Linked DNA regions of Homo sapiens: region 2 is linked to region 1. Evidence: fine-mapped expression QTL. A gene starts in region 1. The other region holds a variant in brackets. All regions are shown on one strand. Distances are between the middles of the regions.

Region 1 (4,380 bases):
GGGTCCTGAGTCCTCTCTCTGGTGACAAGTGGGAAGGGTGTGAGAACTGGAGACTGTCCACATGTGGCTTCATCTAAAAGGTATGACCAGAGGCATTACTGACATCCCAGGGGATTCCTGACCCTAGCTGACAGGTGCCCCAGTTAAAACACACCCCAAAGCTAGGGCTGCTGGAACAGAAAACAGCTCCCCTCAAAGGTCTGCAGCAGCCCCTCTGCAGGCACACCGCCTCAGGCTACATATCCTCAAATTCAGGGGATCTTGGAATAACTCGTGCATTGCACAATCCCACTAACAAGTGCGGAAAATTAAGTTACTTTAAAATTACAAACTTGGGCCAGGCGCGGTGGCTTCCCAGCACTTCGGGAGGCCGAACTGGGCGGATCACTTGAGGTCCGGAGTTCGAGACCAGCCTTGACCAACATGAAGAAACCCCGTCTCTACTAAAAATACGAAATTAGCCAGGCGTGGTGGCGCACGCCTGTGATCCCAGCTTTTCGGGAGGCTGAGGCAGGAGAATCGCTTGAACCTGGGAGGCAGAGGTTGCGGTGAGCCGAGATCACGCCATTGCACTCCAACCTGGGCAACAAGAGCGAAACTCCGTCTCAGGAAAAAAAAAAAAATTACAAACTTGAAGATTTAAGCCAACCTTTCATCACACTTGTGTTCACGTGCATATTTTTCCATTGTAAATATGACACAACCCAAAACCTTCTAATCCCATTGTTTTTGAAATCTACCTTGAGACTGTTACAGTCTAAAGGACACCTCATGAGTACAACTACCTCATCTGCCTCTCATCTTGCCAGCATCTTAATCCTGTGTGACTTTCTCTACATTCACCTAAACTTAACCCTTGCTCATTTGCACTCAGTCACCGCTCCAAGGCCAAGGGGAACCGTTCAGAGAGAACCCCCAGCGGGAGGGCAAGCCCCACTCCTAGCCGGGCCACTCCCCCGCTCCACACGGCATTTGGGTCTTTCTGACATTTTCCCCCACGAATGCAAGACACCGGGGCAGCCTCTGAGGGGGCAGCCAGACAGCCCCGGACCGGGCTGCGGAAGAAAGAGCGTGGCCTTTGTTTACTGCGGTGACCTTAGGCGTAGAGGAAGCCGACGCCCGCTTCGCGGCCCCAGCCCTACCCCCTCCCCTCCCACGGCCCGCTGCCCCCACCCCCGCCCTGCCCCTCCCCCAGGCCCGCCTCCCCACGCCCCACCCAGCCCTTCCCGAGTCCGCTCCCCACGACCCTGCCCCTACCCAGGTCGGCTCCCCAGAGACCATGCCCCACCCCGGGTCAGCTCCCCTATCCCCTCCTTCCCCAACCCTCCCCTCTCCAGACCCTGCTCCCCCGACCTGGTCCTGCCCCTCCCCCACGTCCGCTCCCCACTGCCCTCCCCACCCCTGGCCGCGCTAGCCTAGTGGCCGTTGGGTTCTGGCCACGATCCGGCGGTGCCGGGACTTGCGCGGAGACCCCGCGGGGGCCACCACTTCCTTCCGCGATCGCGCTTGGTCTTGGCAGCCGCAGGGCCCGGGTCTTCGGGCGGCGGGCGGGGGCGGCGGGGCCTCACCGAGATAGATGTCTCCGAAGGAGCCGCTGCCGATCTTCCGGCCCAGCCGGTACCTGTTCCCGACTCTCAGCTCCATGGCGGCGGCGGCCCGATTCGCTCCTGCCCTCCCGGCCGCTTCCTGGGTCTGAACTCTGGGAGGCGGCGCCGCTGCTGCCGCTACTGCGGGTCCGGCTCCCGGCTCCGCCCCCCTCACGGCCCCGCTTTCACCATCGCTTTCCTGTCGCCCCGCCGCTCCCAGCGCCTCAATACGGGGCGGATGGGACAGTCCGAGCGCCGCCGCCGCTGCTCCGGCCCCTACCGGTCCCGCTTGCCCTCTCCCCGCCGCGGATGGACTCGGATCTTCCGGGCCTAAATCCCCTTTCAGCTGCCTAAAGGAGCCGCCGCCATCGCGCTGTGACGTCACTTCCCCTAGCAACCCGGCGGGGCGGGGCCGCGGCGCTCCAGGGGCGGGGCCGGGCGGGGCGAGCGCTCCAGGCCTCCTCCCGACCCTGCGCCGTGCCCAGCCCCTCTGCCCTCCTGTTACCCCGGGACCTCGGGCCGCCAGCCCCTTCCACGTGCAGGCTCCTGCTGCTCTCGCGGGGGCTTTTCGTGTGTCCCCCGAGATGTCGAGGAAGCCAGGTGAGTTCCTCGCGACAGGCGGTGCCCTTTGCAGGAGGGGACAGGTAGCTGAGGCGTGGACAGAGTGACAGGCCAGGCTCAGGGGACACAGGTGAGACCCCCTCACTGGGCTGCCAGTTCCCGGGCTTGGGGCATCCCAGTACGTCAGCGTCTGCGGCCTTACCTCCTGACACCTAAGGCCAGAGACAGAGCAGGCCCGCGCCCTGGGAGGTCCTGATGTCCAGCCTGAAGATTGAGGACAAAGCCACCACCTTTCACAAAATGAGGCCAGACCACCTGCCTCCCTCCAGTCCCTGCGGCCTGGAGACGGAGTCAACATTCTTATCTGTGTTGGATCTGAATGTTCCTCCTTGCAAAGGAAACAAGGAGTGGACGTTCAGGCTGATGGCCAGCTTCAAAGATCGGGGCCTTTGATTCCCATCACTGGGAAGAAAGCCCTTCAGACAAGCCCCCCCAGGCTGCAGGTGCATGGGGACCTTGAAGAACCCGTCCCCATGGTCCCACGTCCATGTGTCTCGAGACCTGTCGCATCCTCGCTGAAACTCAAGAATGTGAAACAGGTGAAGGTGTGTTTTGACGCATTAGCATACCAGGGCTGTGGTGTGGGCACCGCCGTGTGAGTGAGACAGCAGCCTCAGCCCGTCCAGGTCACTGCAGAAGAGGAAAGCAGCCCCCACAGGCCCCACAGTGGTGCTCGCCTTTCTCCACCCCCCAGTCTTTCCTCTCCACCCCTCAGCTCCAAACAGCTGGAGGTCAGGTCGGGGAGACGGGCGTCCATTCCCGAAATTACATAGCAGGGCCTGGAGACAGGAGATGCCGCCGGCCAGACCACCATCAGTCACTAATGAGGGATGGGCAGTCGGAACTGCCCAGTTTCTGAGTTACAGAAGCCGGGGGTGGGGGGCTGCCAGACTAGTAAAACTGACCTTGTTGGCGGAATCGCTCACGGCTTTTCTGTTGATGAACAGAGTCCAGCTCTCCCACGGGTGGCTGTGATCCTTCTTCCTGGGGAGTCCTGCTGTCCCTGACTAGGGGCACCTGCCCACCTGTCAGCTGCTCCTCCCTCGGCTGGTCCTCCTGGGCTCTGATGGCCCCAACATTTCTAGCTCTTCTCACCCATAGTGCCCCAAGCTTCATGCAGCTGCGGCAGGTACTGTGCCCGTCTGCCTGGCTTTTGTGTGTTTGTGTCTTGACTCTATAACCCGTGCACACGGACTGGGCTGTGGTGTAGTGGGGATGGCAGGAGCCCTGGGAACATGCGGGCTGGGCAAGGTGAGGCAGGCTGATTGCTGTGGCTCCCCCACCACCAGCCCCAGCCACAACAAACTGACAAAGGAAGAGGACAGTGGTACCCTGGAGCCCTGGGGTCAGAGAGAGGAGGACAAAGCAGGTGTGTAGCCCAGGGAATGACAGCACCCCTTCCGAGAAGACAGGGAGGGTGCAGACATGGCCAGGTTCTGAGCTAGAAAACTGTCAGCAGGGGGCTGAAGCTGAGGATAGTCATTGCCAAGGAACAGCCTCCGTCACAGAGGAGACGCACAGATGCGGTGACGAGGGAGGGATGCGGGGCTGGTGACCGCTGGGAACGGATGTGTGAGGCAGAGTCTCCAGGCATGGTCTGTGGGGCGGTTTGATGATACTAGAACATCTCAGAGTAGAAGGACGTCCCGACCTGCAGACTGGAAAGCCCCCAGAGCTCCCGGCAGGACGTATGAGGGCCAGCCCACACCCAGGTCTGTCCTGATACAACTGAACGCCACAGTGTCTTAGCTCCTTTACTGTTGCTATCAAGAAACACCTGAGGCTGGGAAATTTATGAAGAATCATGAGGTAATTTGTATATTTGTCCACACTAAACCTCATGTTGAATTGTAAACCCCAAGGCTGGAGGTGGCTGGGTCATGGGGGTGGATTTCTCAGGAATGTTTAGTACCATCCCCTTGGTGCTGTCCTTGAGATAGTGAGTTCTCCTGAGATCTGGTTATTTAAAAAGTGTGGGGCACCTCTCTCTCTCGCTCACTCGCTCGCTCGCTCCTGCTCTGGCCATGTGACGTGCCCGCTCCCCCATTGCCTTTCACCATGATTGGAAGCTTCCGGAGGCCTCCCCAGAAGCTGAGCAGAGGCCAGCACCATGCCTCCTGTAAAGCCTGCAGAACCAGGAGCCAAGTAAACCTCTTTTCATTATTTATTTATT
Region 2 (4,380 bases), 33 kb after region 1:
GAGTGGAGGGGAGGCGAGGAAGGGAGGAGAGAGGAGCAGATGCGACCTGGCCCTGTCACGGGGAGGCTAGGGCCCCTCTACAAGGCTCCCGCCCTTCTTCCAGCTGCCCTCTGAGGCCCTCTGGCCTCTGAGCACCAAGAGCCCCAGGCTCCCCGCCTCCAGGCTGCTGGGTTCTGGCCGACCCACCCTGGTGGGAGCCGACTCATGTTCTCCCTGCTGACTCTGCGAGCCTGGAGGTGGCCCGGCCCCATCCATCCCCTCCCCTCCCCCTGCTCCCCACCCCTCCGCTCCTTGCCCCCTTATCTCCTTCCCTCTCCCTCCTCCCTTCCTCTCTTCCCCATGTCCAACGCCAGCTCCCGGGCCCCACTCCAGCTGCCCAGGCCACAGTGATTCCCTGTCCTGTCTTCTGAGGCCATTTTCCCAACAGCATTGGCTGAGGCAGGAGGATCACTTGAGCCCAGGAGGTGGAGGCTGCAGTGAGCTGTGATCGCGCCACTGCGCTCCAGCCCAGGCAACAGAAAGAGACCCTGTCTCAAAAAAAAAAAAAAAAGAAAAGAAAAAGAAAAAGAAAAAGTTGACTGAGTGTAAAAGTCACTTATTCTGAGGAACAAGAACCTACTCCTGGCTCCAGCTTTGCTCCTAACCTGGCATTTGGTTTTGAGGATGTTACTCAGGCCCGGAGCTCCCATTGCCACTCAACTGGGCATCCTCGTGCCTGGGGAGGCCCAGCACTGGCTCTAGGGAAAACGGGACATGTGGAAGGCTGGGGGCTGGAAATTCCTGCCATGGGGCTCGGGGGTGGTCTCAGTCCTGCCCCTGAGTTCCCGGTCGACCCTTGGAGAAGCTGCGGCAGATGGGATCTCTGACATGGGATCCGTGCTGGCGCCCTCCCTCCTGCAACACAGAACTAACAACCCCACCTTCAGGGCCTTTGATGCTGCGCACACACCACCGGCTCCGCGAGGCAGCCTGTCTGGCTGGACCTCGCTGAGGCCTGTTCACCCTGAAGCACCTGACCACAGACCTCAGCCCTCTTAAGGCCCTGGAGGGGGCCTGGCAATGTCCTCACCCGGCTGGGGTTGTATACAATTTGCTCAAGCTGTTTTGACAGCAGTTGGTCCAGACTGCCGTCTCCTCTGGCATCAGGTGCCCGGAGCAGTTCTGGGGCCCAGCTGAGGGACACTGAGCTGGGGTGTTTAGCTGGGCTTAGCTTAGTGGGGTATGTTGATGGCTGTGCAGTTGCTCCGAGACTGAGGATGTTGTTTCCAGCTGTCTGAGAGAGGGATGTTGCCCTGGATTGAATGGTGTCCCCTGAAATCCGTGTCCGCCTGGAACCTCTGAACAGGGCCTTATTTGGAGACAGGGTCTTGGCAGATGTCATCCAGTTGAGGTTACTGGATGGCCCTGAATCCCACGCGGCTGGTGTCCTGATGTGAAGAGAGAAACCACAGGCCTGGGAGAAGGCCACGTGACGATGGAGGCAGAGACTGGAGCGGCGCAGGCACAAGCCGGGAACGCCAGGGCCGCCGGCAGCCCCAGGAGCTGGGAGAGGCCTGGAGCCCGTTCTCCCTCAGAGCCTCTGGAGGGAAACAAATGATGTCACGACACTGTGGCCACCTGAAGAGGCGGCCAGAGAGCAGGCAGCAAGACGAAGCAGCAAAAATACAAGTGATCCACTCTGCTGAGTGACTGCTCCCCCCGACCCTCTGCGCTGCCCTGCATGCGGGCTTCCGTTACCACACCGTGTGTGAGCCCCCAGAGGCAGCTTCCTGCCTGTCTGTGTGGTCAAGTATGGTTATCTTTGGGTGTGGAGGAATTAAGAATTTTTATTCTCTTTTTCTTCTTTTTTTTTTTGAGACAGGGCCTTGCTCTGTCACCCAGGCTGGAGTGCAGTGGCACAATCTCGGCTCACTGCAACTTCAAACCCTGGGCTCAAGATATCCCCCTGCCTCAGCCTCCCGAGTAGCTGGGATTACAGGCACTCGTCACCACGCCCAGTTAATTTTTGTATTTTTTGTAGAGACTGGGTTTCGCCATGTTGCCCAGGCTGGTCTGGAGCTCCTGGGCTCAAGTGATCCACTCACCCCGGCCTCCCAAAGTGCTGAGATGACAGGCGTGAGCCACCGCGCCCGGCCTCGTTCTCATTTTCTTGCTTAGTTCCTGATGACAGTAAATGAGCATTTAAACAAGGTTTCATGTACACTGATGCTAGTGTCTGTTTTCTGTTTCACAAGCGTAGAGGTCCATGTTAACTA[A/AT]TTCATGACTTAGATCTGAAGGAGCACATTAAAAGCTTGGGCTTAAATGGGTGATGTATCTGGTTTTCTCTGTGGCTATATCATTCCTGGTTTGCATGTTTTGTCTTTATTTTTAGTTTCACCTGTGTTCATACTGGTTATATCTTATTCTATTGTTCCATTTTGTCAGAACATAAGATTGATGACTTTTGTTTTCTTCTGGTTCCTATCTGCCTCATAAGTTTTCTATCCTTTTATTTCCAACCTATTGGTGTCCTTTTGTTTAAAGTGTGTTTACAGGTGTGGTGGCTCATGTTTGTAATCATTGCACTTTGGGAGGCTGAGATGGGAGGGTCACTTGAGGCCAGGAGTTTGAGATCAGCCTGGGCAACACAGTGAGACCCGTCTCTACAAATAATTCAGAATAATTAACTGGGTGTGGTGGTGCACACCTGTAGTCTCAGCTACTCAAGAGGCTAAGGGAGGAGGATTGCGTAAGCCTGAGAGGTGGAGGCTGCACAGAGCTGTGATCGAGCCACTGCACATCAGCCTGGGTGACAGAGTGGGACCTTGTCTCAAAAAAAAAAGGAGAAAGAAAGAAAGAAAAGAAAAGAAAAGAAAAGAAGCCGGGCGCGGTGGCTCATGCCTGTAATCCCAGCACTTTGGGAGGCCGAGGCAGGTGGATCACGAGGTCAGGAGATAGAGACCATCCTGGCTAACACAGTGAAACCTCGTCTCTACTAAAAATACAAAAAATTAGCCGGGCGTGGTGGCGGGCGCCTGTAGTCCCAGCTACTCGGGAGGCTGAGGCAGGAGAATGGCGTGAGCCCGGGAGGCGGAGCTTGCAGCGAGCTGAGATTGCGCCACTGCACTCCAGCCTGGGTGACAGAGCGAGACTCCATCTCCAAAAAAAAAAAAGAAAGAAAGAAAAGAAAAAAATAGGTATCTTCTGTAGACAACATATTGTTGAATCTTTACATTTATTTATTTATTTATTTGTTTAGAGACAGGGTCTCACTCTGTCGCCCAGGCTGGAGTGCAATGGCACGATCTTGGTTCACTGTAACCTCCACCTCCTGGGTTCAAGTGATTCTCCCACCTCAGCCTCTCGAGTAGCTGGGATTACAGGCACCTGCCACCACGCTGGGCTAATTTTTGTATTTTTTCTTAGAGACGGGGTTTCACCATGTTGGTCAGGCTGGTCTCAAACTCCTGACCTCAAGTGATCTGCCTGCCTTGGCCTCCCAAAGCGCTGGGATTACAGGTGTGAGCCATGGCGCCCGGCCACCCAGCTTGATTTCTAAACCTCATCTTCATCTACATCTTGTTTCTGACAGGAGAAATGTCTCCACATGTTGCCACGTCCGTCAGTCTCCGCCTCCCTCTCTCCATGACATTGGTATTATCTAGAATTTTAGTTCTAGATTGTTATGTAGATTGAACATACATTGTAGATTCTGCGCTTTTTTTTTTTGTCATTGCTTTTTCTTTTTTGGACAAAATAAACTATCTGATTGCTTCTTATTTCTCTTGTAAGGATCTTCTTGTTTCGGTTTCTTCTTACTTGGATCCTGCCTCCAAGAGGGGTTTCAAAGTTAACTTCTCGGATGTGTCTTAAGACCTTATATGCAGCTAGGCGCGGTGGCTCACGCCTGTAATCCCAGCACTGTGGGAGGCAGACGGATCACTTGAGGTCAGGAGTTTGAGGCTATCCTGGCCAACATGGTGAAACCCTGTCTCTACTAAAAATAAAAATACAAAAATTAGCCTGGCGCGGTAGCACACGCCTGTCATCCCAGCTACCCAGGAGGCTGAGGCGGGAGAAAAACTTGACTCCAGGAGGTGGAGGTTGCAGTGAGCCAAGATTGCACCACTGCACTCCAGCCTGGGTGACAGAGTGAGACTCTGTCTCAAACAAAACAAAACAAAAACCCTTATATGCCTGAGAATATCTTTATTATATACTTAAATTTTATGATAATTTAGTTAGAGGCGACATTCCAGGTACAAACTTCTTTTCTTTCCACACTGAAGCATATTTTTTCCATCGTCTCCTTGAACCCAGAGTTGTCTTTGAGAATTCTGAGATCATCTGAGTTTGAGGATTCTCTGTCTGGTTTTGACGTTCTAGTCCTTTGAATGTGTC

What was found. PIP is the estimated chance that this variant, and not a neighbour inherited with it, causes the effect.
Region 2: its variant is the best candidate, but not a certain one, in a credible set for the expression of CSNK1D in whole blood (INTERVAL, PIP 0.58).

Annotation. Positions count from the first base shown.
Region 1 is chr17:82,271,738-82,276,117 of GRCh38, forward strand. CSNK1D (casein kinase 1 delta) reads right to left here and starts at 1,963. Exons shown (of 9, transcript NM_001893.6): 1 at 1,569-1,963. The coding sequence starts at 1,644. LOC124904089 (a long non-coding RNA gene) reads left to right here and starts at 2,041. Exons shown (of 2, transcript XR_007065953.1): 1 at 2,041-3,336. RefSeq lists silencers at 1,363-1,412, 1,463-1,652, 1,893-2,102.
Region 2 is chr17:82,304,393-82,308,772 of GRCh38, forward strand. No RefSeq gene overlaps it. Among named protein-coding and RNA genes, the nearest start is that of CD7, 11 kb to the right of the region's middle. The variant A/AT (reference allele first, on the strand shown) is at 2,256.